3 separate regions of the Homo sapiens genome follow, and all the other regions are linked to region 1. Evidence: fine-mapped expression QTL. A gene starts in region 1. Each other region holds a variant in brackets. All regions are shown on one strand. Distances are from middle to middle.

What was found. PIP is the estimated chance that this variant, and not a neighbour inherited with it, causes the effect. A credible set is the group of variants that fine-mapping cannot tell apart.
Region 2: its variant is the best candidate, but not a certain one, in a credible set for the expression of NPAT in whole blood (INTERVAL, PIP 0.76).
Region 3: its variant is the best candidate, but not a certain one, in a credible set for the expression of NPAT in blood mononuclear cells (TOPMed, PIP 0.54).

What each region holds. Positions count from the first base shown.
Region 1 is chr11:108,220,452-108,225,451 of GRCh38, reverse strand. It overlaps NPAT (nuclear protein, coactivator of histone transcription), which reads left to right and starts at 2,814. Exons shown (of 18, transcript NM_002519.3): 1 at 2,814-2,952. The coding sequence starts at 2,916. ATM (ATM serine/threonine kinase) reads right to left here and starts at 2,385. Exons shown (of 63, transcript NM_000051.4): 1 at 2,266-2,385. RefSeq lists enhancers at 1-2, 1,499-1,548, 1,899-1,978, 2,289-2,448, 2,859-2,918.
Region 2 is chr11:108,143,158-108,154,330 of GRCh38, reverse strand. ACAT1 (acetyl-CoA acetyltransferase 1) reads right to left here. Exons shown (of 12, transcript NM_000019.4): 10 at 10,284-10,348; 11 at 7,972-8,129; 12 at 6,728-7,061. The coding sequence ends at 6,941. Among named protein-coding and RNA genes, the nearest start is that of ACAT1, 27 kb to the right of the region's middle. RefSeq lists a silencer at 3,394-3,562. The variant G/T (reference allele first, on the strand shown) is at 8,551.
Region 3 is chr11:108,435,357-108,446,529 of GRCh38, reverse strand. The region is part of intron 2 of C11orf65 (chromosome 11 open reading frame 65); the gene reads left to right. Among named protein-coding and RNA genes, the nearest start is that of C11orf65, 27 kb to the left of the region's middle. RefSeq lists a cis regulatory region at 7,601 and an enhancer at 7,529-7,673. The variant C/T (reference allele first, on the strand shown) is at 5,268.

The sequences.
Region 1 (5,000 bases):
ATTTTATTAGCAGATGGCTCTGATTCTCTTCTCCTTTTATATTCACTGGTGGTTCTTCTGACTTCCCCCATCCCCCAACACTATTACAACTTCCGCTTTACTCTGCTATAGATTACAGATTGTTATTTGAGTTCTTTTCATTTGATTATATACTTCCTGTGGACAAGTATTATCATTTTTGTTTTTCCATTCCTTATGGTTTTATCTAGGAATCTTCTTACTTCTTCAATCTCAGTTTAAAGCCCTCTTGAGTCAATAAGGAAAATGAAACTGGTAATCTAACCAATGAAAATACCTTAGCAATATCCAAAGAACCATAAGGTTTGGCACCTTTATTCCTAAATATACTAAAGATTTGACACTTCCCGGAAGAGGCAGCCCTAAACTTGACTTTTTTTTCCCCATGGTGTGACTTCCTTGAACTTGTTTTTCTTACCTTCAGCTTAATGATTACTTTGAAGAAAACAAAACAGTTCAGTATTATCTACATAAACAGAAGATGCTCATTCACTGATAGATGCAAACAATATTTACTACTTATAGCTAGACAAATAATGAACTAAACAGATACAAATCCTACCCTCATGAAGTCATATCTGGGCAGCAGGGTGACAATAAACAAGTAAATTGATAAACCAATGCATAATTCCAAATTGTGATGTATGCCTCTGAGGAAACAAAAACACAGTAATAGAAAATAACTGTAGAGAGAATCATTTTAGATAAACTGTCAGGGAACATATATCTCAGAGGAGTTTATAATAAAGCCAAGATCTGAACTAACTGGTGCCAATCAAAAAAAGGGCTAGAGGACCAACACTTCAGGGAAGGAGACTAGCATAGCCAAAGGGTTCTACAATGTTAAAGAACACAGTATGTTGGCGGAACTGAAAGAAGGCAGAGGAACTATTAGGTAGTCAACTAGAGTATGAGTGTCACCATATAAAGATGAACTTCATTTATACATTAATCCAGAATATCTAGGTTCCACTCAAGGTTCAAACGAAAAGATAAGGATTTCCTACTTCCTACGAGCCTCTGAATTGACGAATTCAGTGTTCCTTTTTAGATCTCAACCAAGTTGACCCCTTTGCACAACTTGACAATGACGCTTATATCCCATCTTCCTAGAAATAACTCTGCCCTTGGCATGCCATTCTTTTCTAGTGCTAAGGAGTGTGGCCTCTGTAGTCAGATTGTATTAGTTCAAATCCTGGTTCAGCCACTTACAAACTGTATAATCTAGAGCAAGTTCACTAATCTCTTCAAACCTCAGTTTCTCAATGATAAAAGGAAAAACAATACTAGTACCTACCTCTATGAGTCCCTTTAAGGACCCATATACATGCTTACAGTGCCTGAAACACAGCAAATGTTAGCAATGATCATATTAACTTCCGTTATGACTGTTTCGAAAGTCTCCTGATATCTCTTCTTCCGCTCATACCTCAAAAACAGCTTTGTTTTCTTGGTCTCATCCATTCCTATGACTTCAGCAGCTGAAAACCCACAAAATATATTTCATTCAATGCCAGGCCTCACGCTGGAGCTTCAGGGTCCTTCTACACTTTGTGCCTTTACACGCATTTTTCCTTCCATCTGGAAGGCTTCTACCATCTGCCAAGGTAACACTGCGAGGTCTCACCACAAACTGAATTGATAGTCTCAGGCTGAGTTTGCAGAGAACCAAAGTCACTCCTCTACCATCAGAGTACTCCCCTATCACCACATACATTATCATCCACTGTAGTTGTCTTATCTGTACCTGGTAAATACAGCAGCTAACGCTCACGAGTGCTCACCACAGGTCAAGATTATCTCACTTATCTTCACAAGACAGTAGAGAGCGGCCACACGACTGACAGAATTCCAATTCCAGCCGTATGATTCCAGAGCCCAAGCTCTTAACCGCGAGGCTGAAGTTGAAATATCAATAAATGCTCGCTGACTAAAAGTACTAAATACGAGAGAGAGATCAAAAGATGACTAGTCAAGTCGCGTAGTTAAATCTGAACCCTAAGGTGACACAAAAAGAGGATGCGCAGGAGGCAGGGTTCAATTCAGGGCGTTTAAAAGGAGGAGGTTATTGGCCAAGTCCGCTAAGCACCCGGAGAGAGGCCAGGAAAGATGGAGTGAGGAGAGGGAGGAGTCAAGGGCCACTCTGGAGGGGTGCATGAGATTGGCGGTCTGGGGAGAGGACAGACTGGGTCGCACACGACTGAATTTCCCAGCGCAGAAGCCGCTGCGTTGCCTCCGCGCCCCTACCACTGCACTCGGAAGGTCAAAGTAGTATCAACCGCGGCGGTGGCTGCAGCGCAGATCCCGACTCCTCTCGCCTCCTCCCGCGGCCACGGCTTCTTTTCTCCGTTAGCCACGCAGCTACCTACTCCCGCTTCCGGTTCAAACCCTGCGTGACTGCCCAGCGCCCACTTCTGGAGGAAGAAGCAACGCCAAGCAGCCGCAGAGCACGGTATGCCCATGCGCATCCAGTATCACGCGGTCTCCGCGCTCAAAACACTGCCCCAAAACATTCGGCCCGTCGGAGCAAACGCGCCTGCGCCATGTCCACCAATGGCCAGCGACTTAGCGTTTGCGGCTCGCCCTTCGGCTCGGGCTCCGGGGCTCTCACCCACCCTCTTCGCCCTCGTCGTCCTCCCCGCCCTCCTCATCCCCGCCCCTCCAAGTCTGAGGACGGAAGTGACGACAGTTCCGAAGGCGAACGGAGGCGGGTTTCATTTCGGCGCCTTTCTTTCTCTGGCGGAAGCGATTGGCTGCCGTGAAGCGAAAGAGGCGGGACAAATTGCCGCGAGTTCAGTGCCGCCACTGGAACCAGGAGATGCGGCGCAGGAGCTGTCGCTGTGTTTGCTTTAACCTGAGTCTTGTTCCTTATTGTGGTTCCTGCTGTGGTTTTGATCATGTTGTTACCCTCGGACGTAGCCCGGCTTGTATTGGGTAAGCGCGGACGCGGGATGGAGGGTTATTGGACCCGGCTATGCTGGACAGAAGGACCTTTGAGGCCAAAGGTTTTCCCTTGGTAGGGAAGCTTTGGGGTTTTGCCTCCCAGCTTACGAGTTGAGACTGGCGGTGATTCTTCGTCATTCGGAGGTTCTGGGCAGTTTAAGCCTCTTTGTATGTAGATGCTCCTCTCTTCAGAGGCTGCGTGGCGAGGGGAAGCCCGAGGGGAAGCTCGGGGTGGAACACCTGGGGCGGATTCGGAAGGAAAGTCAGGCCTCCACACTTAATTAGGACCCCTGAAAGAGCATTTGTCTGCATGACGGACGGATTGCGTGTGCTTCAACCTTGGGCGCAATTTCCTTGGTTCAGTGTTGGGACCAAAATAGGGCAAATAGGGAGTTCCCCGGCCCCCCATCTTTGTAGAGAGACCTTCCTGGCGCCCTTCTAATAACCCGCCCTTATAACTACGAATTTGGGAGTAGGGGTGATCTTCCTTCTCCATCCTCCACGCAATACGTCGTCCAGTGTAGAGGTGTGAAATGCCAGTTGCATATTTTAAAACAGCAATTCCTGTTCCTTTGATCAGCGAAAAATTTCAGAGGGTTAATTGCCTTAAATTAGTTGAACGTTTTCTAGCCCTAGTTTTACCTTCATTTGAGGAGGGATTGTTTGTGGGTCACTTGTCTGTCAGGGTGTATTGTCTGTGTGAGAGACGGGTTTTGTTGTTGTTTGTCCCCTGAAAGAATAAAGAGGATTGTACTACAGGGGACGAGAGCCAGGTAAAGCTCAAAACCCGAGCCAGTAATTTACGGACGTCGTATGCGACGTCCCTAAAAGTAAATGGCAAGCATCTGTGATGAAACCTCCCATAGTATTCACAGCCATTACTACTATTATTTTATTGTTCGGAAAACCCATTTGTCTTGTGCCTCTTTTAAATGCCCAGCGCTGTCCACAAAAATGTTATTTGCGCAGGGCTCTTGATAAGCACATTTTGCAGGAAACGTTAAACGGAAATGGTTCCACCATCCATTTTTGAAGAAACTTAATGACAAGTTTAATGTTTTGTTAATGTCTGATTAATCTTTTGCTTAAGAATTCTGAGTTTTGGCAGTTTGGTAATCTAGTTGAGTTTCGGTAACTATAGTCTTAAACATGGTTTCTCAGCCTCAGTACTGTTAACATTTTGGGCCTCATAATTCTTTATTGTGGGGAGCTATCCTGTGCTCAAACATTGTAGGATGTTTAGCAGCATTCCTGGCTTCTATTCACTAGATTACAGTAGGACACCCGTTCCCCACCCTACCCTTACCCAGTTGTGATCAGTGAAAATGTCTCTAGATATTGCTAGTATGTCCCCTGGAGGGCAGAATCACCCCTAGTTAAGAAAGCCCTAAGAAAGCAGTATCATTTTCTAATTGAAATAATTCACATCGATGTGTGAGTATTCTTTCTCCACAAACCAGCTACTCTGCTGACTTCCTGCTTTTCATTTAATGGACAAAAAACGCCAGCCATGGTTTTCTTATCTTAAAAATCTTTGTCATTCACATTCCATTTTCACTGCCACCAATCCCGCAATGTGCCTGCCATTACTTCTCTTTTGGACTTCTGTCATGGCTTCCCAGACAGTTGTCCTCGCAATTCATTTTATTTACTGTTGTTACAAATCTCCCTGAAGCTTTCACACTATACCTTTTAGTCTGAAAGTTGAGATAATTCTATTCTTACTAAAAATTTCAGATGGGCAGGAGTATACAATACAAAAAAGCCTCCCCATGCCTAATGCTCTTACTTTTGTCGTTTATCATTTTACATCTTAAATAGATACATATCGTGTATATCTTTCTCATATGAGGTTTATTATTTACTCATGATTCTTTTCCTATCAGTACCCCCTCGCCATCTTCAGCTCCTCTTGTTATTGGTCCCTTCATAATGTTTTTTTTCTAGCAAATCTTTGGGTGCCTAGTATGTTCCAAACACTGTGCCAATTGCTGAACATAGAGAAGTTAAGTTTTCTCCCCTTAGTGTTCAGATAATTA
Region 2 (11,173 bases), 74 kb after region 1:
TTTTCAAATACTATTTGGGTTATCTTTTGTGGACAGTCCAAGGTTTTTGCCCATTTTAGTATTGGGTGTCTGCCTTTTTCTTACTGATTTTTACGTGTTCTTTCTGTATTCTGGATACAGGTCCTTTTTCGGATGGATGTTAGGTGTCTGAGTATTCTCCCTTGTTATTCTTCTGAAAGCGTTATGGTTCAACCTATTTCATTTTGATTTGACCATCTATCTGGAATTGATTTTCCACATTGATATACAATTAACCCACACTATTTATTACCAAAGATTATCCTTTCCCAACTACATTGCACAGTTACTTTTCTCATAAGCTGGTAAATGTGTAGGTTTGTTTCTGGACTCTATGCTGTTCCATTGGTCTGCTTTCTTTAAGATGTGCTAATAACACACTGTCTTAATTAATGTTGAAAATCTTTTTTTTTTTTTTTTTGAGATAGTCTCACTCTGTCGCCCAGGCCAGAGGGCATTGGTGTCATCTCTGGTGACTGTAACCTCCGCCTCCCAGGTTCAAGCAATTCTCCTTCCTGAGCCTCCTCAGTAGCTGGGATTACAGTTGTGCGCCACCACACCCAGTTAATTTTTGTATTTTTAGTAGAGACAGGGTTTCACCATATTGTCCAGGCTGGTCTTGAACTCCTGACCTCAGGTGATTCACCCACCTCAGCCTCCCGAGGTGCTGGGATTACAGGCGTGAGCCACTGTGCCAGTCCCAAAATCTTTTATATTTTAGTTCTATTTATTTTCTATACTGAGTGAAGTCTGTTAGTACTAATGGATTTACCAGTGCTACTTTTTAATTTGTGAAGTATTATCTGTAAATAATTATTTTCCAATTTTATTTATTTTTACTACACTGATATTAGCACTTCCAGTGCAACTAATAATGATCAAAGTCTGCTTCATTGTCTTGTTCCCCATTTTAATGGCAATGTTAGGTATAATGTTTGCTTTTATTAAGTATAATGTTTGCTTTTGTTGGTAGAGTTTTACGATTTTACATCAGAAGTACCTGTTCAACTTAATTGCCACGTTTAAGCATCAATTAAAATATTTTCATTGAACTCATGAATTTCTTTTTATATTAGTGATTATTTTAAGTAAGTTTGCTTTGTGAATATTTTATTTAAATGTTTTTGGTTTTTGTTTTTGAGACAAGGTCTTGCTATATTGCCCAGGCTAGAGTGCAGTGGCTGTTCATGGGCACAGTCATAGCCCACTATAGCCTTGAACTACTGGGCTCAAAGGATCCTCCTGCCTCAACTTCATGAGTAGCTGGGACTACAAGTGCACACCAACACACCCAATGAAAAGTTTACTTTTAATGAGATTGGTTTCAAACTTATGCCAGTTTTTAAAATGAATTTTAAACCTTTCCTTCTTTTTCTAGTTTATTTGAATATTGGGGATAATAAATAGTACCAGTGCTAAAGTGTGAAGTTTAAATTGTACAATATATGTAAAAGCACTTAGATTAATGCCTGGAACATAATAAGCACTTTAAGAACTAGTTGCTATTATAGCTGATGCTGTTTTTTATTTCTTTTTTCTGCAACAGTTTATTTAGAATGAGAAATAACTGTTCCTTGAGACTAAATCACTACTAAATTATCTAGGCCTGGAGCCTTTTGCTTAAGCAGTTTTCCATTTTTTTTTCTCCTAAATTTCTTCCTGGCTGATTATCTATTCAGGCTTTGACCTTTTTTTTCCTGAGTCAAATATCACATTTTTTTTAATTTTGGCTTTTGTTCTCTAAGATACAATTAACTTTTTTCTGTCAAAAACACTTCTTAGATTCAACAGTTGTATAGGAGCCTATTCTTTGTGCTTCCTACTTTCTCAGGGTCCTTTTTGCATGTTTATTTAACTTAAATTAATAAACAGTTATCTGATTTTTTTTTCCCCTTCTTAAACCATGTAAGCATTTAAGGCTGTGAATTTGCTTCTGATTTCAACTTTCAGCAAAATTTGGGTAAGTACTTTTAATATTCATACATAACTATTTACAATAAATGATACCAGGCTCTTTTTTGCCTAAAATTTTTATTATTGTGGTCAGGATAAGTTGCAGGTTTTATAAATGTTGCACGGGGGCTTAGAAATAGGTAATGTTGGCTGGGCATGGTGGCTCACACCTGTAATCCCAGCACTTTGGGAGGCCAAGGCAGGCAGATCACTTGAGCCCAGGAGTTCGAGACCAACCTGGGCAACATGATGAAACCCCCATCTCTACCAAAAATTAGCCAGGCATGGTAGTATGCACCTGTGGTCCTAGCTACCAGGGAGGCTGAGGTGGGTGTATCACTTGAGCCCAGGAAGTCAAGGCTGCAGTGAGATGAGACCATGCCACTGCACTACAACCTGGGCAACAGAGCAAGACCCTATCTCAAAAAAAAAGTTAAAAAAGAAATAGGTATTGTTTAGAAAGGTAAAGTTTGATATGTATTCAGTCTTATACTGTTTGAATCCTGTCTTTGCTTTAATACTTTTTTCACAAGTGTTTGTTTAATCCATGAAACATTATTATCTTGGTCATAGCTTTGGCTTTTTTTCTGCCAAAAAAAAAAGTACAAAGTAGACCATCATAAAAAGTAGTTCTTTCCCCATTTTAACAGTTTCTGCCTTCTCATAATTTATGATACATGCAACCCTTTTTACTTTTTTTTTTTTTTTTTTTTTTTTTTTTTTTTTTTGAGACAGAGTTTCGCTCTTGTTGCCCAGGCTAGAGTGCAGTGGCATGATCTCAGCTCACCACAACCTCCACCTCCCTGGCCCAAACGATTCTCCTGCCTCAGCCTCCCACGTAGCTGGGATTACGGGTATGCACGACCACGCCCGGCTAATTTTGTACTTTTAGTAGAGACGGGTTTTCTCCATGTTGGCCAAGCTGGTCTTCGAACTCCTGACCTCAGATGATCCACCTGCCTCGGCCTCCAAAAATGCTGGGATTACAGGCGTGAGCCACCTCGCCCAGCCTCTTTTTACTTTATTATTGGATTTTAAAGCTGTTGTCTTATAGTAACTTAAGATATGGAACTGTAACCATAACAGGTCCATTGCCCATTGTGCATGACAAGTCAGTATGTAAGACCCTGGGCTGCAGCAAAGAAAGATGTTTAATTGCAGGGCCACCGAATGAGGAGACTGGAGGAAACTTCAAATCTCTCCCCGAGGGTTTAGGAAGTGGGCCAAGGTGCAGCCTGTTTAGTGCCTAGTTATAACTATATTTCTGTCCAGGACCCAGCATGCAATTCTTGTAAGTCCCGTGAGGGCAGTCTCAGAACTTGTCCTACTAGCGTTTACCTTTATTTAGCAGATAAAGATAACATGTTACCGATATTTCACCATGTAAAGGCCAAGGGAAACCAGGAGGTAGGTGTAAAACACAAGAAAAAAAAGGAAAATACAAGGAAAAAAGGAAACTCAACATATTTTAGAATACTTCACTGAAGGTAAGTAGTGCATCCAAAGGTTGGTGATCTGGAAAACATTTGAAAAGTGCTCTGAAAATTCTGGGGAAAAAATGGAAAGGAAGAGAAAAAATAGAGAACCAGAAAGTAAATGGTATTTCTTTTCTTTGTTTAAGAGACAAGGTCTCCCTCTGTCCCCCAGTACAGTGGCAGGATCATTTCACTGTAACCTTGAAGTTCCCCTTGGCCCTCTGAAGGTTTGCTGGAAAATAAAGCTGTTTGCAAAAGGCAGATTAATTGGAGAAAAGGAATATACATTTATTTAATGTTGTATACATGGGGGCCTTCAGACAAAGACCTGACCCCGCCCCCAGTGGGGTGTAGAAACTTTTTTTTTTTTTTTTTTTTGAGACAGTCTCACTCTGTTGCCCAGGCTAGAGTCCAATGGTGTGATCTTGGCTCACTGCAACCTCTGCCTCCTGGGTTGAAGCGATTCTTCCACCTCAGCCTCCTGAGTTGCAGGGACTACAGGCATGCGCCACCACGACCGGCTAATTTTTGTATTTATAGTAGAGACAGGGTTTCACCATGTTGGCCAGACTGCTGTCGAACTTCTTACCTCAGGTGAGCTGCCCATCTGGGCCTCTCAAAAGTGCCAGGATTACAGACATGAGCCCCTGTGTCCGGCCAGGTGTAGGAACTTTATACCATCTTCAGGTTACAGAAGTAATGTGAGCTCCCAGCATGGCCAAAAACATGTTATTTTGGTAAATCAGGTTTTAGTGGCAACACAGGTTACGGGTAGGGAAAGGAGACCTGGCTAGGAAAGGTGGTCTTGTTAGAAGCTTTCTGAGAGAATGGATGTTAAATGTTTAAGACCTTTAAAGGTGTCAGACAGGCTCTCATTTAACCTTTTCTAGATTCCAGACAAGGGAAGTCCTGGCTGCATTAATGGAGATTCTCCATAGACGCAGATTTCTTTCAAAAAAGACAGCTTTGCAGCACCACTTCTGTTTGCTGGCCCTCTGATAGCCATCTCAAAATATGTCAAATAAATATAATTTGAGGTAAAACATTTTTATTTCCTTCAACCACTACCTTTCCTTCTTCCCCAGCCAGTCCTTAAGCAGTCATTTAAAAAATTAGAAACTTTCACCTAACTGAATTCTTAATTCTTCATTCCATGGGCTTGCCTAAACCTTTGTCATTTTTGGAGGAAACATCAGAGTACTTTATTTTCTAAACTTTTCTGTGTTTGAGACACACCTTTTAGTATCTTATTTTGTTTCATTAAAAACAGTTAGATGTCCTGTCACTTGTTTTCTTGGATTGAATGTAATAGAAATAAGAACTGTGGCTACCTATTTTTCTAACTAGATGTTAGAGGAATTTAATACATTTTCTCCAGAATGTCTTAGTATGATTTTCTGCTAATTAATTTTGCCAATAAAATATGCTCTTTAGGGCTGGGCGTGGTGGCTCATGCCTATAATCCCAGCACTTCGGGAGGCCGAGGCAGAAGGATCACCTGAAGTCAGGAGTTCGAGACCAGCCAGGCCTACATGGCAAAACTCTTCTCTCTACTGAAAATAAAATAGCTAGGTTTGGTGGCGCATGCCTGTATACTCAGGAGGCTGAGGCACGAGAATCGCTTGAACCCAGGGAGCGGAGGTTGCAGTGAGCCAAGATCGTGCCACTGCATTCCAGCCTGAGCTACGAAGCAAAACTCTGTCTCAAAAAAGAAAAAAAAAAAATGCTCTTTAAAATCTTCCCCCTTAGGACTTAAAAATCTGAGTTTTTCTATTATCTTTATGTTTTCTGTTATATTAAATTATTGCTTCAGAGTATCTTTTTTTTTTTTTTTAGGAAACACCATTTAAGCTGTGCATGGTAGCATGTGCCTATAGTCCTAACTACTCAGGAGGCTGAGGGAGGCAGATCACTTGAGAACCCAGGAGTTCAAGGTTACAGTGAGCTATGGTCATGCCACTGCACTCCAGCCCAGGCGACAGAGCAATACCTTATCTCTTTAAAACAAATTAAAAAACCTACTTACTTGATTCTCTGTTTCTTCTCTCTTTTCCATTTTTTCCCAGAATTGTCAGAGCACTTCTCAGATGTTTTCCAGATCAATGACCTTTGGATGCAATGTTAGTTTCTGCTTATCTTCAATGAAGTATTCTCATGTTTTGGGTTTCCTTTTCTCCTATATCTTATCCAGCTCCTGGTTCAGTTAGAAGTTTTTGTAAGTCGGGGCAGATAATTATTGAAAGGCATTTAACTAAAGCATAGTAAGTTAAGAACGTGGGCTCTGGAGCTTGACTAACTTGGAGTTGAATCCTAGCCAGCTTTTTGCCCTTGGAATTTATTTAGCTACTCTATGCCTCAATTTCCTTGTTTATAAAGGAGGGATAATAATGGTACCCACTCTTAGAAGTTTTTGTGACAATTAAATGAGTTTATACATATAAAGCACATAACAAGCCTCAAAAGTTGGTGATGATTACAGATGTTTTTGAAAATACTCTACTCTTCCTCTGAATCTGAAGAGCAATCTAATCTATTTCTCCCATATATTGTCATTTTGCTCCTTCAAAAGATCTACAATACATTATTTGCCAACAGATAATGTGTACACAATGACCTTTACTGCCCCCTCCTCTTCCTGAGGGGGAGTTTTCCCTCTTCAGAGCTGCAATTGAGGGTAGTGTGCATAGCCCCTGCCTGTAGCGTTTTAATTAATTAATTTTTTCCCAGATAAAATGCAATGCGAGATACTTCTGTTACAGTCTGTCCTGCTTAAGAACAGGCATTGTCGTGTATTGGAAGTGGTGATCTGTTCCCTTTTTTATATATCCATTCAGCATATCAGTTTCTACCTCCCTTCCCACTCTCTATGCTGCTATAGTAATTCAGAGCCCAAACTCCAGGGTTTTCTGCTTGACCTCCCCCAACCCTGAATGTTGAGGTTATAAGAAATTGCCCCCACTCTAGACCCTGAGGACATGGGCTTCTGTCTTGTTTCTAGTACTGCTGCACACACTGTGGTTTGAGTGATTATATGAAGCACTGCTAGTTTGTCCAGAATAGCCAACTCTTACTGTAAAGAGAAGTAATTTAATTTACCGTAATTTACTAAATGTAAATTACCTATAAAGAGCATTCACTTGACCTTTAACAATCCTCAAAAATATAAATGTGTTCTCACAAATGGAAACTTCTAGCTACTTATGTAAGTCACTAATATTACACATTGGTATTTCTACCATATTTCGATAAGTATAGACTCAGAATGCAAAAATGTATCAAACTTTTCAAGGTTACCAAGAAAAAAGCAGAAGAAGAAATTTATTTTTAATTTCAAAATGTTTTGGGATTTCATCATTTTGATTTTTAAAAGTTAACATAGAAAATAATAAAAAATGAAACAGCTTATCTGAATATAAGCTGACCCACAGTAGTCACACTGATTACAGCAGGCCTTCTGGTCACATAGGGTTGTCTCCTTAAATAGCAGAGGTTGTCTACAGCTTCTGAATTAGCATGGCAGAAGCACCTCCTCCTCCATTGCAAATACTGGCAAGACCGTATTCTCCTTGCTTCAAGGCATGAGTCAAATGACCAACAATCCTGGCTCCAGACATCCTAAAATTAAGAAAGCATTTACTTCTTTAATGAAGTACAGAATTTATGACTAACCAAAATGTTTCTATTCCAATTTAACTTCTTGAAAACCTTACTAGCCACTACTACTTGCTGAATTAACTACTACTATTCTAAAACTAAAACTTGGAGGACTTGTTTCAGGAAGGGTCACAGATCTTAGATCATTTTTTGAGATGGAGTCTCGCTCTGTCGCCAGGCTGGAGTGCAATGGCAGAATCTCAGCTCACTGCAACATCCACCTCCTGGGTTCAAGCGATTCTCCTGCCTCAGCCTCCCAAGTAGCTGGGACTACAGGCGTGCACCACCACACCCAGCTAATTTTCGTATTTTTAGTAGAGACAGGGTTTCGCCATGTTGGCCAGGATGGCCTCTATCTCTTGACCTCGTGATCTGTTCACCTCAGCCTCCCAAAGTGCTAGGATTACAGGCGTGAGCCACCGTGCCTGGCCAGGTCACAGATCTTTTAAAAGTACAGAACAGTATAATGGATAGAAGAGTAGAGTATAATGGAAGAGGGATGTGGGATAAACTACATATTGGGTGACTGACAGGTGCACTGAAATCAGCCCCCACCACTATAAATTCATCCATGTAACCAAAACCCACGGTACCCTAAAGCTAATGAAATAAATAGGAAGGAGAAAAAGGGGGTAAAAAGTCTAAATGTACACTTTTTCTTCTTCAGCATAAAACATTATTAGGTTTCAAATAACAGATGTGACAGGTCTCTGTTCAGTATTGGATACCATCTATCAGAAATGGTTTTTGCCTTATGAAAGATGGGTAGGAAGGAAAACTTAAGAGCAATGGGAATTATGAAGCAGTTTTAAGTTTAGCTAGAAACACAAAGGCAGCTCTTAACCTAGATATAGTTATTATTTTTACCTACCCAATTGGATGTCCCAGAGAAACAGCTCCTCCATTGATATTCACTTTTTGGGGATCAATCTCCAACATTTTAATGTTTGCTAGTACAACCAGACTAAAGGCTTCATTTACTTCCCACATTGCAATATCTTCTTTTTTCAATCCCACATCTTTAAGAACCTTAAATTTTTTAAAAGACAGATGATGTTCAAATAATTAGCAATCACAACTTACTGTCATCATTTCCTTGAAATACTACAGTTTGACATAAGTTATTTAAATATGGAAGTTCTTGGTTTCAGATGGAAGGATCTCTATTTTCAGATTTTTTTTTTTTCCAACAGTCTTGCTCTGTCTCCCAGGCTGGAGTGCAATGGCGCCATCTTGGCTCACTATAACCTCTGCCTCCCAGGTTCAAGCAGTTCTCCTGTCTCAGCCTCCTGAGTAGCTGGGATTACAGATGCCCACCACCATGCCCAGCTAATTTTTTGTATTTTTAGTAGAGACAGGGTTTCACCATGTTTGGCCAGGCTGGTCTCAAACTCCTGACCTCAGGTGATCTGCTCACTTCAGCCTCCCAAAGTGCTGGGATTACAGGCGT[G/T]AGCCACCGCACCCGGCCCATTTTCAGATTTTTAGTTGCTCATCTTATTCCATTATATCAAAGAATTTTGTTTGCATTATGTCTGTTTTGACATAGGGGACAGAAAATTTGATTTTCTTTCCACAGATATTTGAAAAGGTACATTTTCTATTTAGGGGCACATAATGCTTTATATATTCTTAAGCTCTGCTTTACTGATTGTGTGTTGCTTGGTTCTATATTCTTTTTTGTTGTTGTTGATTTATTTTGAGACAGGGTCTTGCTCTGTCACCCAGGCTGAAGTGGAATGGCACAGTCATGGCCCACTGCAGCCTTGACCTCCCAGGCTCAAGCGATCTGCCTCCCAAAGCGCTGGGATTACAGGCGAGCGCCACTGCACCCAGCCATTTCTATGTTCTTGACTGTTAATGAAAGAGGTATATTAGTTTCTAATATTAGTGATATTAATGCATCCCCTGCAGTTTCTGCTTTATAAATGTTACTGTAGGGTTATCTGGGCCACAGATATTTACATCTGTTGCAGTTTCATTGTAAGTCATTTATTTAAAATCTTACACTATATGATCTGTTTTGTTTTGGTAGTTCCTCAGCTATGCAGGAAGGTGTATTTGTGCCAGTGATTATCCCTATGCTAATACTTTTTAAAACATTACTAGTGAGTGCCCTAAAACATTACTAGTGAGTGCCCTTTTTCTTTACAGAAGAAATTTGATTGTTGTGAGCGATAATAAAATTAACGTGGAACTCTTCCTCCATCTTCCTCTCTTCTACTAGTGGACTAAGGGTAGCTTTCTAGCCTATACAGCTCAAACAGCTTCCACTGTTCCAACAACACAAAACAAAATATGGTACCCATATATAGCTATGTCTGTAGCTCTCAGAAGTTATTCTACCTTCAGAATCCAGAATTGTTTATTACCCTTGCTTTCCAACGTGATGTTACTCACTTTCAGAAGCTGCGTGTTCCTTTCATTTTCTGAGATCTGCTAGCTCTGAGCAGATCATCACTCCACTGGCCCCTTGTTTCTGATCTTCTCTATTCTTGTTTCCTACTGATTCTGCAGTTTTTTTTTTCATTGCGGGGGTTGGGGGCAGTGGGGAGAATCTGATTTTACTAAAATTCTGCAATTTTTTTTATCTGGGTGCTTACAGAAGTTTACTGTCAGGGTGAGGCCCTCTCAAAAGGAAATATTTACTTAAGATTTCTAAGAACCCTGAACCCCTAAAACTTTCTTTTCCTGTGACTGCTTAGCAATTTCCCACTGAGACTTGGATAGCCCTTACTGACAATTTGGAATATGTAGGTTTTCTGTCTCTAGTTTTACTATTTACTCTGAAGACCTGCTGCCAGCTGTTCCCTTTCAGAATGGAGTCCTCTCCTGGGGAGTGACTAGTTGCTTTCCATTCTAGATCTGGAACCATCAGCCAGCATTCCCTCCGCTTTGTGGTTACCACACCAGGTGTGTGAGTTCTGTATGATACTTACAAGTAATTCAGATGTGTAGTTTTACCTGTTCTACTGAAGATGTAGTTTGTGAGCTGTTCTTTATTTTTTTTTTTTTGTTTGTTATCCTTGTTGCTCTTACTCTTTTCAGGAGAAGACATGGGAAGATTTGAAACCAAGCTATCTCTCTGCTTTGGCAGATAACATTTAAAATCTTAAAAACTGCAACCTTGGTATAAGCAAACCAGAAGCTAGCATAATGGAGTATCGCCCCTCACTTTGTTCTCACCATAGATGCAGCATATACAGGAGCAATTGGAAAATCAATAGGTTCTACAGCAGCGTCAGCAAATGCTGTTTAAAAAAAGGGGGGGGGGGGTTGTTAAAATCTTTTTTTTTTTACTGTATAGAATATGCACAAGCCAAGTTTAGCCCATTAAATGCACATTTCCTAGCCCCTTTAATATATGTAAATATATGTCTTCCTTTTCTAGGATTCTACACTTTATAAAATTACTCCAGTAATCTAAGACACTGATTTTCATTGGGGGGGAGTTTGGGGGTATTTGCCTCTAGGAACATTGGCACCACCTAGAGATGTTTTTGGTTGTCAGAATAGTTCAGATGCCACTGGGTAAAGACTAAGGATTCTGCTAAACATCTACAATGCATAGAACAGTCCCTACAACAAAGAATTACTTAGTGCAAAAGTCAATAGTGCTGAGGTTAAGAAACCATGATCTAAGCTAAGAAAAAAAATGAAGTTATAAGGCTTTTTATAAAGTAACAAAATAGCATCTGTTAAGTCCTTAGGAAGAAGGCAAGACAGATTTCTGCAGCTAAAAATCGGCTTAAGGACATTGAGAACTTGCCCAAGGCCACAGAGTTAATAAATACTAAAACACCACACATGTAAATTTTGTATTTCTGGACTCCTAATCCCATATTCTTTTTTTCCTACATAGCTGCCTCTGTAGGAAAATGCATGTACTTTATTTTCTGCTATTTATCATACAGGACAGGAAGTTTTTTAAAGCTTAATTTAAAAAAAAAGAAAAAGAGACAAGATCTTGCTCTGTTGCCTAGGCTGGCTGCAGCTTTGACATCTTGGGCTCAAATGATCGTCAGCCTTAGCCTCCTACGTAACTGGGACTACAGGCATGCTACCACACCTGGCTA
Region 3 (11,173 bases), 220 kb before region 1:
TTTGGCTGGATATGAAATTCTGGGTTGAAAATTCTTTTCTTTAAGAATGTTGAATATTGGCCCCCACTGTCTTCTGGCTTGTAGAGTTTCTGCTGAGAGATCCGCTGTTAGTCTGATGGGCTTCCCTTTGTGGGTAACCCGACCTTTCTCTCTGGCTGCCCTTAACATTTTTTCCTTCATTTCAACTTTGGTGAATCTGACAATTATGTGTCTTGGAGTTGCTCTTCTCAAGGAGTATCTTTGTGGTGTTCTCTGTATTTCCTGAATCTGAATGTTGGCCTGCCTTGCTAGATTGGGGAAGTTCTCCTGGATAATATCCTGCAGAGTGTTTTCCAACTTGGTTCCATTCTCCCCATCACTTTCAGGTACACCAATCAGACGTAGATTTGGTCTTTTCACGTAGTCCCATATTTCTTGGAGGCTTTGTTCGTTTCTTTTTATTCTTTTTTCTCTAAACTTCCCTTCTCACTTCATTTCATTCATTTCATTCATTTCATCTTCCATCACTGATACCCTTTCTTCCAGTTGATCGCGTCGGCTCCTGAGGCTTCTGCATTCTTCACGTAGTTCTCGAGCCTCGGCTTTCAGCTCCATCAGCTCCTTTAAGCACTTCTCTGCATTGATTATTCTAGTTATCCATTCGTCTAATTTTTTTTTCAAAGTTTTTAACTTCTTTGCCATTGGTTTGAATTTCCTCCTGTAGCTCGGAGTCGTTTGATCGTCTGAAGCCTTCTTCTCTCAGCTCGTCAAAGTCATTCTCCATCCAGCTTTGTTCCATTGCTGGTGAGGAGCTGCGTTCCTTTGGAGGAGGAGAGGTGCTCTGCTTTTTAGAGTTTCCAGTTTTTCTGCTCTGTTTTTTCCCCATCTTTGTGGTTTTATCTACTTTTGGTGTTTGATTATGGTGACATACAGATGGGTTTTTGGTGTGGATGTCCTTTCTATTTGTTAGTTTTCCTTCTGACAGACAGGACCCTCAGCTACAGGTCCGTTGGAGTTTGCTAGAGGTCCACTCCAGACCCTGTTTGCCTGGGTATCAGCAGTGGTGGCTGCAGAACAGCGGTGGCTATAGAACAGTGGATATTGGTGACCTGCAAATGCTGCTGCCTGATCGTTCCTCTGGAAGTTTTGTCTCAGAGGAGTACCCTGCTGCGTGAGTTGTCAGTCTGCCCTTACTGGGGGGTGCCTCCCAGTTAGGCTGCTCGGGGGTCAGGGACCCACTTGAGGAGGCAGTCTGCCCATTCTCAGATCTCCAGCTGCATGCTGGGAGAACCACTACTCTCTTCAAAGCTGTCAGACAGGGACATGTAAGTCTGCAGAGGTTACTGCTGTCTTTTTGTTTGTCTGTGCCCTTCCCCCAGAGGTGGAGCCTACAGAGGCAGGCAGGCCTCCTTGAGCTGTGGTGGGCTCCATCCAGTTGGAGCTTCCCGGCTGCTTTGTTTACCAAATCAAGCCTGGGCAATGGCAGGCACCCCTCCTCCAGCCTTGCTGCTGCCTTGCAGTTTGATCTCAGACTGCTGTGCTAGCAATCAGCAAGACTCCGTGGGCGTAGGACCCTCCGAGCCATGTGTGGGATATAATCTCCTGGTGTGCCGTTTTTTAAGCCCGTTGCAAAAGTGCAGTATTAGGATGGGAAGTGACTGGATTTTCCAGGTGCCATCTGTCACCCCTTTCTTTGACTAGGAAAGGGAACTCCCTGACCCCTTGCGCTGCCGGAGTGAGGCAATGCCTTGCCCTGCTTCAGCTCGTGCACGGTGCGCTGTACCCAGTGTCCTACACCCACTGCCTGGCACTCCGTAGTGAGATGAACCTGGTACCTCAGATGGAAATTCAGAAATCACCTGTCTTCTGCGTCGCTCATGCTGGGAGCTGTAGACTGGAGCTGTTCCTATTCGGCCATCTTGGCTCCACCCTGTGGATAAGCTTTTTGATGTGCTGCTGGATGCGGTTTGCCAGTATTTTATGGAGGGTTTTTGCATCGATGTTCATCAGGGATATTGGTCTAAAATTCTCTTTTTTTGTTGTGTCTCTGCCAGGCTTTGGTGTCAGGATGATGTTGGCCTCATAAAATGAGTTAGGGAGGATTCCTTCTTTTTCTATTGATTGGGATAGTTTCAGAAGGAATGGTAGCAGCTCCTCTTTGTACCTCTGGTAGAATTCGGCTGTGAATCCGTCTGGTCCTGGACTTTTTTTTGGTTGGTAGGCTATTAATTATTGCCTCAATTTCAGGGCCTGTTATTGGTCTATTCAGGGATTCATCTTCATGGTTTAGTCTTGGGAGGGTGTATGTATCCAGGAATTTATCCATTTCTTCTAGATTTTCTAGTTTATTTGCGTAGAGGTGTTTATAGTATTCTCTGATGGTAGTTTGTATTTCTGTGGGATCGGTGGTGATATCCCCTTTATCATTTTTTATTGCGTCTATTTGATTCTTCTCTCTTTTCTTCTTTATTAGTCTTGCTAGTGGTCTATCAATTTTGTTGATCTTTTTAAAAACCCAGCTCCTGGATTCATTGATTTTTTGAAGGGTTTTTTGTGTCTCTATTTCTTTCAGTTCCGCTCTGAACTTAGTTATTTCTTGCCTTCTGCTAGCTTTTGAATGTTTTTGCTCTTGCTTCTCTAGTTCTTTTAATTGTGATGTTAGGGTGTCAATTGTAGATCTTTCCTGCTTTCTCTGGTGGTAATTTAGTGCTATAAATTTCTGTCTACACACTACTTTAAATGTGTCCCAGAGATTCTGGTATGTTGTGTCTTTGTTCTGGTTGGTTTCAAAGAACATCTTTATTTCTGCCTTCATTTTGTTATGTACCCAGTAGTCATTCAGGAGCAGGTTGTTCAGTTTCCATGTAGTTGAGCGGTTTTGAGTGAGTTTCTTAATCCTGAGTTCTAGTTTGATGTCACTGTGGTCTGAGAGACAGTTTGTTATAATTTCTGTTCTTTTACATTTGCTGAGGAGTGCTTCCAACTATGGGGTCAATTTTGGGATAGGTGTCGTGTGATGCTGTAAAAATGTATATTCTCTTGATTTGGGGTGGAGAGTTCTGTAGATGTCTATGAGGTCTGCTTGGTGCAGAGCTGAGTTCAATTCCTGGATATCCTTGTTAACCTTCTGTTTCGTTGATCTGTCTCATGTTGACAGTGGGGTGTTAAAGTCTCCTATTATTATTGTGTGGGAGTCTAAGTCTCTTTGTAGGTCACTCAGGACTTGCTTTATGAATCTGGGTGCTCCTGTATTGGGTGCATATATATTTAGGATAGTTAGCTCTTCTTGTTGAATTGATCCCTTTATAATTACGTAATGGCCTTCTTTGTCTCTTTTGATCTTTGTTGGTGTAAGTCTGTTTTATCAGAGGCTAGGATTGTAGCCCCTGCTTTTTTTGTTTGTTTGTTTTCCATTTGCTTGTTAGATCTTCCTCCATCCCTTTATTTTGAGCCTATGTGTGTCTCTGCACATGAGATGGGTCTCCTGAATACAGCACAGTGATGGGTCTTGAATCTTTATCCAATTTGCCAGTCTGTGTCTTTTAGTTGGAGCATTTAGCCCATTTACATTTAAAGTTAATATTATTATATGTGAATTTGATCCTGTCATTATGATGTTAGCTGGTTATTTTTCTCGTTAGTTGATGTTGTTTCTTCCTAGCATCGATGGTCTTTACAATGTTTTTGCAGTGGCTGGTACTGGTTGTTCCTTTCCATGTTTAGTGCTTCCTTCAGGAGCTGTTGTAAGGGAGGCCTGGTGATGACAAAATCTCTCAGCATTTGCTTGTCTGTAAAGTATTTTATTTTTCCTTCACTGATGAAGCTTAGTTTGGCTGGATATGAAATTCTGGGTTGAAAATTCTTTTCTTTAAGAATGTTGAATATTGGCCCCCACTGTCTTCTGGCTTGTAGAGTTTCTGCTGAGAGATCCGCTGTTATTCTGATGGGTTTCCCTTTGTGGGTAACCCGACCTTTCTCTCTGGCTGCCCTTAATATTTTTTCCTTCATTTCAACTTTGGTGAATCTGACAATTATGTGTCTTGGGATTGCTCTTCTCGAGGAGTATCTTTGTGGCATTCTCTGTATTTCCTGAATTTGAATTTTGGCCTGTTTTGCTAGGTTGGGGAAGTTCTCCTGGATAGTATTCTTAAGAGTGTTTTCCAACTTGATTCCATTCTCCACATCACTTTCAGGTACACCAATCAGACGTAAGTTTCATCTTTTCACATAGTCCCACATTTCTTAGAGGCTTTGTTCGTTCTTTTTCCTCTTTTTTCTCTAAACTTCTCTTCTGGCTTCCTTTCATTCTTTTGATCTTCAATCACTGATACCCTTTCTTCCACTTGATTGAATCGGGTACTGAAGCTTGTGCATGCATCACCTAGTTCTCTTGCCATGGTTTTCAGCTCCATCAAGTGATTTAAGGTCTTCTCTACACTGTTTCTTCTAGTTAACCATTCATCTCATCTTTTTTCAAGGTTTTTAGCTTCTTTGTGATAGGTTTGAACATCCTCCTTTAGCTCGGAGAAGTTTGTTATTACTGATCATCTGAAGCCTTCTTCTCTCAACTCATCAAAGTCATTTTCCATCCAGCTTTGTTCTGTTGCTGGCAAGGAGCTGCATTCCTTTGGAGGAGAAGAGGCATTCTGATATTTAGAATTTTCAGCTTTTCTGCTCTGGTTTCTCCCCGTCTTTGTGGTTTTCTCTACCTTTGGTCTTTGATGATGGTGACATACAGATGGGATTTTGGTGTGGGTGTCCTTTCTGTTTGTTAGTTTTCCTTCTAATAGGACCCGCAGCTGCAGGTCTGTTGGACTTTGCTGGAAGTCCACTCCAGACCTTGTTTGCCTGGGTATCACCAGCGGAGGCTGCAGAACAGCAAATATTGCAGAATGGCAATTGTTGCTGCCTAATCCTTCCTCCGGAAGCTTTGTCTCAGAGGGGCACCTGGCCGTATGAGGTGTCAGTCTGCCCCTACTGGGGGGTGCCTCCCAGTTAGGCTACTTGGGGGTCAGGGACCCACTTGAGGAGGCAGTCTGCCCATTCTCTCATCTCAAACTCCATGCTGGGATAACAACTACTCTTTTCAAAGCTGTCAGACAGGGACGTTTAAGTCTGCAGAAGTTTCTGCTGCCTTTTGTTCAGCTATGCCCTGCCCCCAGAGGTGGAGTCTACAGAGGCAGGCAGGCCTCCTTGAACTGTTGGTGGGCTCCACCCAATTCGAGCTTCCCGGCTGCTTTGTTTACCTACTCAAGCCTCAGCAATGGCAGACGCCTCTCCTCCAGCCT[C/T]GCTGCCGCCTTGCAGTTCAATCTCAGACTGCTGTGTTAGTAGTGAGCAAGGTTCCGTGGGTGTGGGACCCTCTGAGCCAGGTGCAGGATATAATCTCCTGGTGTGCTGTTTGCTAAGACTGTTGGAAAAGCACAGTATTAGGGTGGGAGTGTCCTAATTTTCCAGGTACCATCTGTCACGGCTTCCCTTGGCTAGGAAAGGGAATTCCCCAACCCCTTGCACTTCCTGGGTGAGGCAGTGCGTTGCCCTGCTTTGGCTCATGCTCCTTGGGCTGCACCCACTGTCTGACAAGCCCCAGTGAGATGAACCCGGTACCTCACTTGGAAATGCCGAAATCACCTGTCTTCTGCGTTGCTCATGCTGGGAGCTGTAGACTGGGGCTCTTCCTATTTGGCCATCTTGGAACCTCCTCTTCCTATCGGTCATATTTTCCCTTTCATCTAGGCTATTTTAGTAACTTGCTTTACCATTAAAACCACTAAAATAGGACATGACATTCTGGAACCTCTTAGTCTAGGTCATAAAAAGCATTGCAGTGTCCAAGTCTGTGTCCTGAAATGTTCATTCTGAGTGAGAACAGCCACCATGTAGGAAGGATAACTGCCCTGAAACTGCCATGCTGAAGTGAATCCCAGGCTAGCCTCATGGAGAGGTTGCCTCCAGAGATTGATGATTGACTATCCTGTTTTAACAGATATTACAGCCCACTTAAGCAGATACGTAAGTGAAAAGGCCATTTTTTATATTCCATGCCCAATAAGTGTAATAAGGAAAAGAACCAAGAGACCTAGCTGACAGCTAGAATGCAGGTCCTTGATATTGGGCCCCACTTGAGCCATCCCAGCCATTTCTACTGTTCAAGTCATCCCCGCTGAAGCCTCAGTCATTGTGGAGATGAGACAAGACTTCCCTACTATTCCCTACCAGAATTCGTAACCCATAATTATGAGCATAATAAAATGGTGGTTGTTTTTACACTACTAAGTTTTGAGGTACTTTACTACACAGTAATAGATGATTAGAACAGCTATATATTCTTTTAGAGGGTTAAGCTAGAAAGGGCAAAGTTACAATATTTGCCCTTGATTAGTTAGTCTCTACCTTAAATTAGTACTTTTACCCTTTTCAGAACAATGTAAGAAGCTCATAACATGTTAACTCACTTTAGCCTCTTCACCTTTGTCCTGTTATTTCCAGATATTTCACTTACACTTTTGTTTTAAGTACCAGGAGACATTATTATTCTTGTTTTAAACAGCCAGTGTTCACTTTTTTATTGTAGTAAAATGTTCATAACATAAAATTTACCAGTTTAACCGTTTTTAGGTGTATAACTCAATTACATTAAGTATATTCATAATGTTGTGCACCTATCACCAGTATCCATTTCCACAGCTTTTTCATCATCCCAAACAAAACCTCATGTACCCATTAAACAAAAACCTCCTAACCACCAGACCCCAGTTATCTCTATTCTACTTTGTGTCTCTGTGAATTTTCCTATTTTAGGTACCTCATTTAAGTGGATTTATCTTTTTGTATCTGGCTTATTTTACTCAACATAACATTTTCAATGTTCATCCAATTTATAGCATGTATCAGAATTTCATTCCTTTCTAAGGATGGATAATATTCCATTATATATCTATATGCTACATTGTATTTATCCATTCATCTGTTAATGGACATTTGGGCTATTTCCACTTTTTGGTTACTGTGAATAATGCTGCTAATAAATTGATGTAAAAATATCTGTTTGAGCCATTGCTTTCTTTTTGGTATATGTCTAGAAGTGGAATTGCTGGATTATGTAATTCAATGTTTGACTTTGTGAGGAACTGCCAAACTTTACCACAGTGGCTGTACCATTTTACATTCCCACCAGCAATGCACAAGGTTTCCAGTTGCTCTATATCCTTGCCAATACTTGCTATTTTCAAGTTTTTTGGTAATAGCCATTCTAATGGATGTTAAGTCGTATCTCATTGCAGTTTTGATTTACATTTCCCTTATGACTAGTGATATTGATCATCTTTTTTGTCCTTATTGACCACTTGTAAGTCTTCTTTGGAGAAATATATATTCAAGACCTTTGCCCATTTTTACATTGAGTTGTTTTGCATTTGTTGTTGAGATGTAGCAGTTCTTTATGTTTCGAAGATCTGCTTTGCAAATATTTTCTCCCATTTTGTGGATTGCCCTTTTACTCTCTTGTTAGTGTCCTTTGATGCACAAAAAGTTTTAATTTTTTTTTTTTAGATGGAGTCTCGCTCTGTCACCCAGGCTGGAGTGCAGTGGCACAGTCTCGGTTCACTGCAACCTCTGCCTCCTGCGTTCAAATGATTCTTCTGCCTCAGCCTCCTGAGTAGCTGGGACTACAGGCGACCACCACCATGCCTGGCTAATTTTTGTATTTTTAGTAGAAATGGGGTTTCACTGTGTTGGCCAGACTGGTCTCAAACTCCTGACCTCAAGTGATCTGCCCGCCTTGGCCTCCCAAAGTGCTAGGATTACAAGCGTGAGCCACTGCACCCAGTCTGATTTTTATGTAGTCCAGTTTATCTTTTTGTTCATTTTGTTTCTTGTGCTTTTGGTGTTATATCCAAGAAATCATTACCAAATCCAACGTCATGAAGCTTTTCCCCCATATTTTCTTCTAGGAGTTTTATGGCTTTAACTCTTATATTTGGATCTTTGATTTTTTTTTTTTCCAGACGAAATCTTGCTTTGTTGCCCAAGCTGGAGTGCAGTGACTCAATCTCAGCTCAGTGCCAACTCCGCCTCCCAGGTTTGAGGGATTCTTTTGCCTCAGCCTACCGAGTAGCTGGGACTACAGGAGTGCGCCACATGCCCAGCTAATTTTTGTATTTTTAGTGGAGACAGGGTTTCACCACGTTGGCCAGGCTGGTCTCAAACTCCTGACCTCAAGTGATCTGCCCGTCTCGGCCTCCCAAATTGCTGAAATTATAGGCGTGAGCCACTGCATGCCACCTAAATCTTTGATCCATTTTGATTTAATGTTGCATATGGTGTAAATTAAGGACCCAATTTCATTATTTTTCATGTGGGTATATAATTGTCACGGATACATTTGTTGAAAATACTGTCCTCTTCATTGAATGGTTTTGAAACCCTTGTCAAAAATGAGTTGACGACATATATATGAGTCTATTTGGAGGCTCTCTATGCTATTCCATTGGCCTATATATCTGTCCTTAGGCCAGTACCAAACTGTTTTGATTATTGTAGCTTTAGTAAGTTTTGAAATCCGGAAGTATGGCTCTCCAACTCACACTTTTTCACTTATTTTATTCTTTTTCAAGACTGTTTGGCTATTCAGGGTCCCTTGTGTTCCACATAGATTTTAGGATGGGCTTTTCTATTTTTTCAAAAAGTGCCGTTGGGATTTTGGATAGTGATTACATTGAATCTGTACATTGCTTTGGGTAATACTGTCATCTTAACAATACTAAGGCTTCCAATCTGTGAATGTGGGGTGTTTTTCCGTTTAATTTCCTTATCCTTTTTTTTTTTTTTTTTTTTTTTTTTTTTTTAAGACTGAGTCTCACCTGTCACCAGGCTGGAGTGCAGTGGTGCTATCTCAGCTCACTGCAACCTCTGCCTCTGCCTCCCGGATTCAAGCGATTCTCCTGCCTCAGCCTCCCGAGTAGCTGGGACTACAGACATGCGCCACCATGCCCAGCTAATTTTTGTATGCTTAGTAGAGACGGGGTTTCACCATGTTGGCCAGGATGGTTTCGATCTCTTGACCTCATGATCTGCCCGCCTCAGCCTCCCAAAGTGCTGGGATTACAGGCGTGAGCCACTGCACCCAGCCTTCAGTATCTATTTTTATCTATCCAGATACAAACCATTTCCAGAGCCCTTCATTTGTTCCTGCAGCCTTATTTGCTTCCTTATGGTATTAATTTTCTGCCAACTCAAGAATTCTCTGTAGTTTGATTTTGTTTTTGAGAGGCAAGTTCTTGCTCTGTCACCCAGGCTGGAGTGCAGTGGTGCAATCATAGCTCACTGTAGCCTCGAATTCCTGAGCTCAAGTGATCCTCCTACCTCAAGCTACTGAGTAGCTAGGACTTCAGGTGTGCATCACCACACCTAGATAATTTTTAAAATTTTGTCCACCCCCCCCCTTTTTTTTTTTTTTTTGTCGTAATGGGTTCTTAATATGTTGACCTGGTGGGTCTCAAACTCCTAGCCTCAAGTGATCTTCCCATGTCAGCCTCCCAAAGTTCTGGAACTATAGATGTGTCTGTAGTATTTCTTATAAGATTTCTTAGATGCCAGACCTCCTGTGAAAAATCCCTTCAGCTTTTGTTTGTCTAAAAGCATATTTATTTCCTTTTTATTTTCAAAGAATATTATCACATTTCATAGAAATCTGGACTGGCATGTTATTGGGATTTTTCCCCCCTCAGCACTCAGATGGCATTCCATTGTATTCTGTCTCCCATAGTTTCTATTAAAAAGTCAATAAATAGTGTTACCGTTTCTACTCTGAAAGTATTGTGGTATTTATTTTCTGGCTGCTTTTAAATTGCGTCTTTGTCTTTGGTTTTTAGCAGTTTGATTATGATGTGTCTATATGTCATTTTCTTTATATTTGTCCTTGTTTGGTCAAGTTGACAATAGAATAACCCAGCTGAGTCTACCCCTTGTCACCTTGGCATCCATACAAATCCCTTTTAACCATATTTAACTTCCAAATAGAATCAAAACCATGCTTCCACCTAACATTCCTCATACAGGCCAAAGCATATTCACAACCTTCCCAAAAGTACCTTTATCCCTTTTTGGATCATTTTTATTCCTCTTTTTGCTGAACCATACTCTACCTATGATATCTTATACTTTAAATACCAGGTGGAAGGTTAAGTACTTGTATTAATTTCCTAATGCTACTGTAAAAATTGCCACAAAGTTAGTGCTTTAAACCACAAAAATGTATTATCTTACGGTTCTGGAGGTCAGAAGTCTGAAATGGGCTTCACTGGGCTAAAATCAAGCGTCAGCAGAGCTTGTGTTCTCTCTGGAGGCTCTAGGGAAGAATTTCCTGCCTTTTCCTCCTTCTAGAAGTTGCCCGCATCCTTGGCTCATTATGCCCTTCTATTTTCTTTCTTTTTTTTTTTTTTCCTCCTAAAATCCTTTCCTGGAGCAACCCCTGTCTATTTTCAAAACCAGCAATGACCTGTCAAGTCTTTCCCTCATCACACCACTCTTGCTGACTCTTCTATGTCCTTTATACGGACCCTTGCAATTACCTTGGGCCAATGAGGATAATTTCCCTGTGTCAAAGTCAGCTGATTAGCAACCTTAGTTCCAAATGCAATCCTAATTCACCCTCTCCATGTAACAGCATATTTACACATTACAGATTACAGGGATTAGGTGTGAACATCTTTTGTTAGGGAGCGTTATGCTGCCTACCACACTATGATTAACACACTTTACATTTGTTTTAGGGGAATGGGAGCAGGAGAAAACAAAAGAAAAAAATGGCTAATATTTATATGCAGATATATAGAAGAAATACTCATAGATACTACCTGTTTCTGCAGCTAATTATGGGAATCATAGCTGGTATTTTTAACTTTTTTCTTCCACTAGCTATTTCATATTCTCTCTTTTTTTCAGCAAGCACTTCAGCTGGTTGTGGTTCCTTGCTCAGGGGTGGAGGAAGGGAATGACGCAAAACTTCATTCCTAAAGGGGCTAGACCTTTAACAATTCTGCCTGTTTGGGGTTGTTATAATTTTCCATTAACTTTTCTTACAGAATATGGTATTACTAAAAAACACCCCAAAAGTTCTCCTGAATTCTAGACATCTTCCTTAATTTCTACTGGTAGTAATAGCTCATTTTCTCCTAAGAATCAGGATTAATTACCC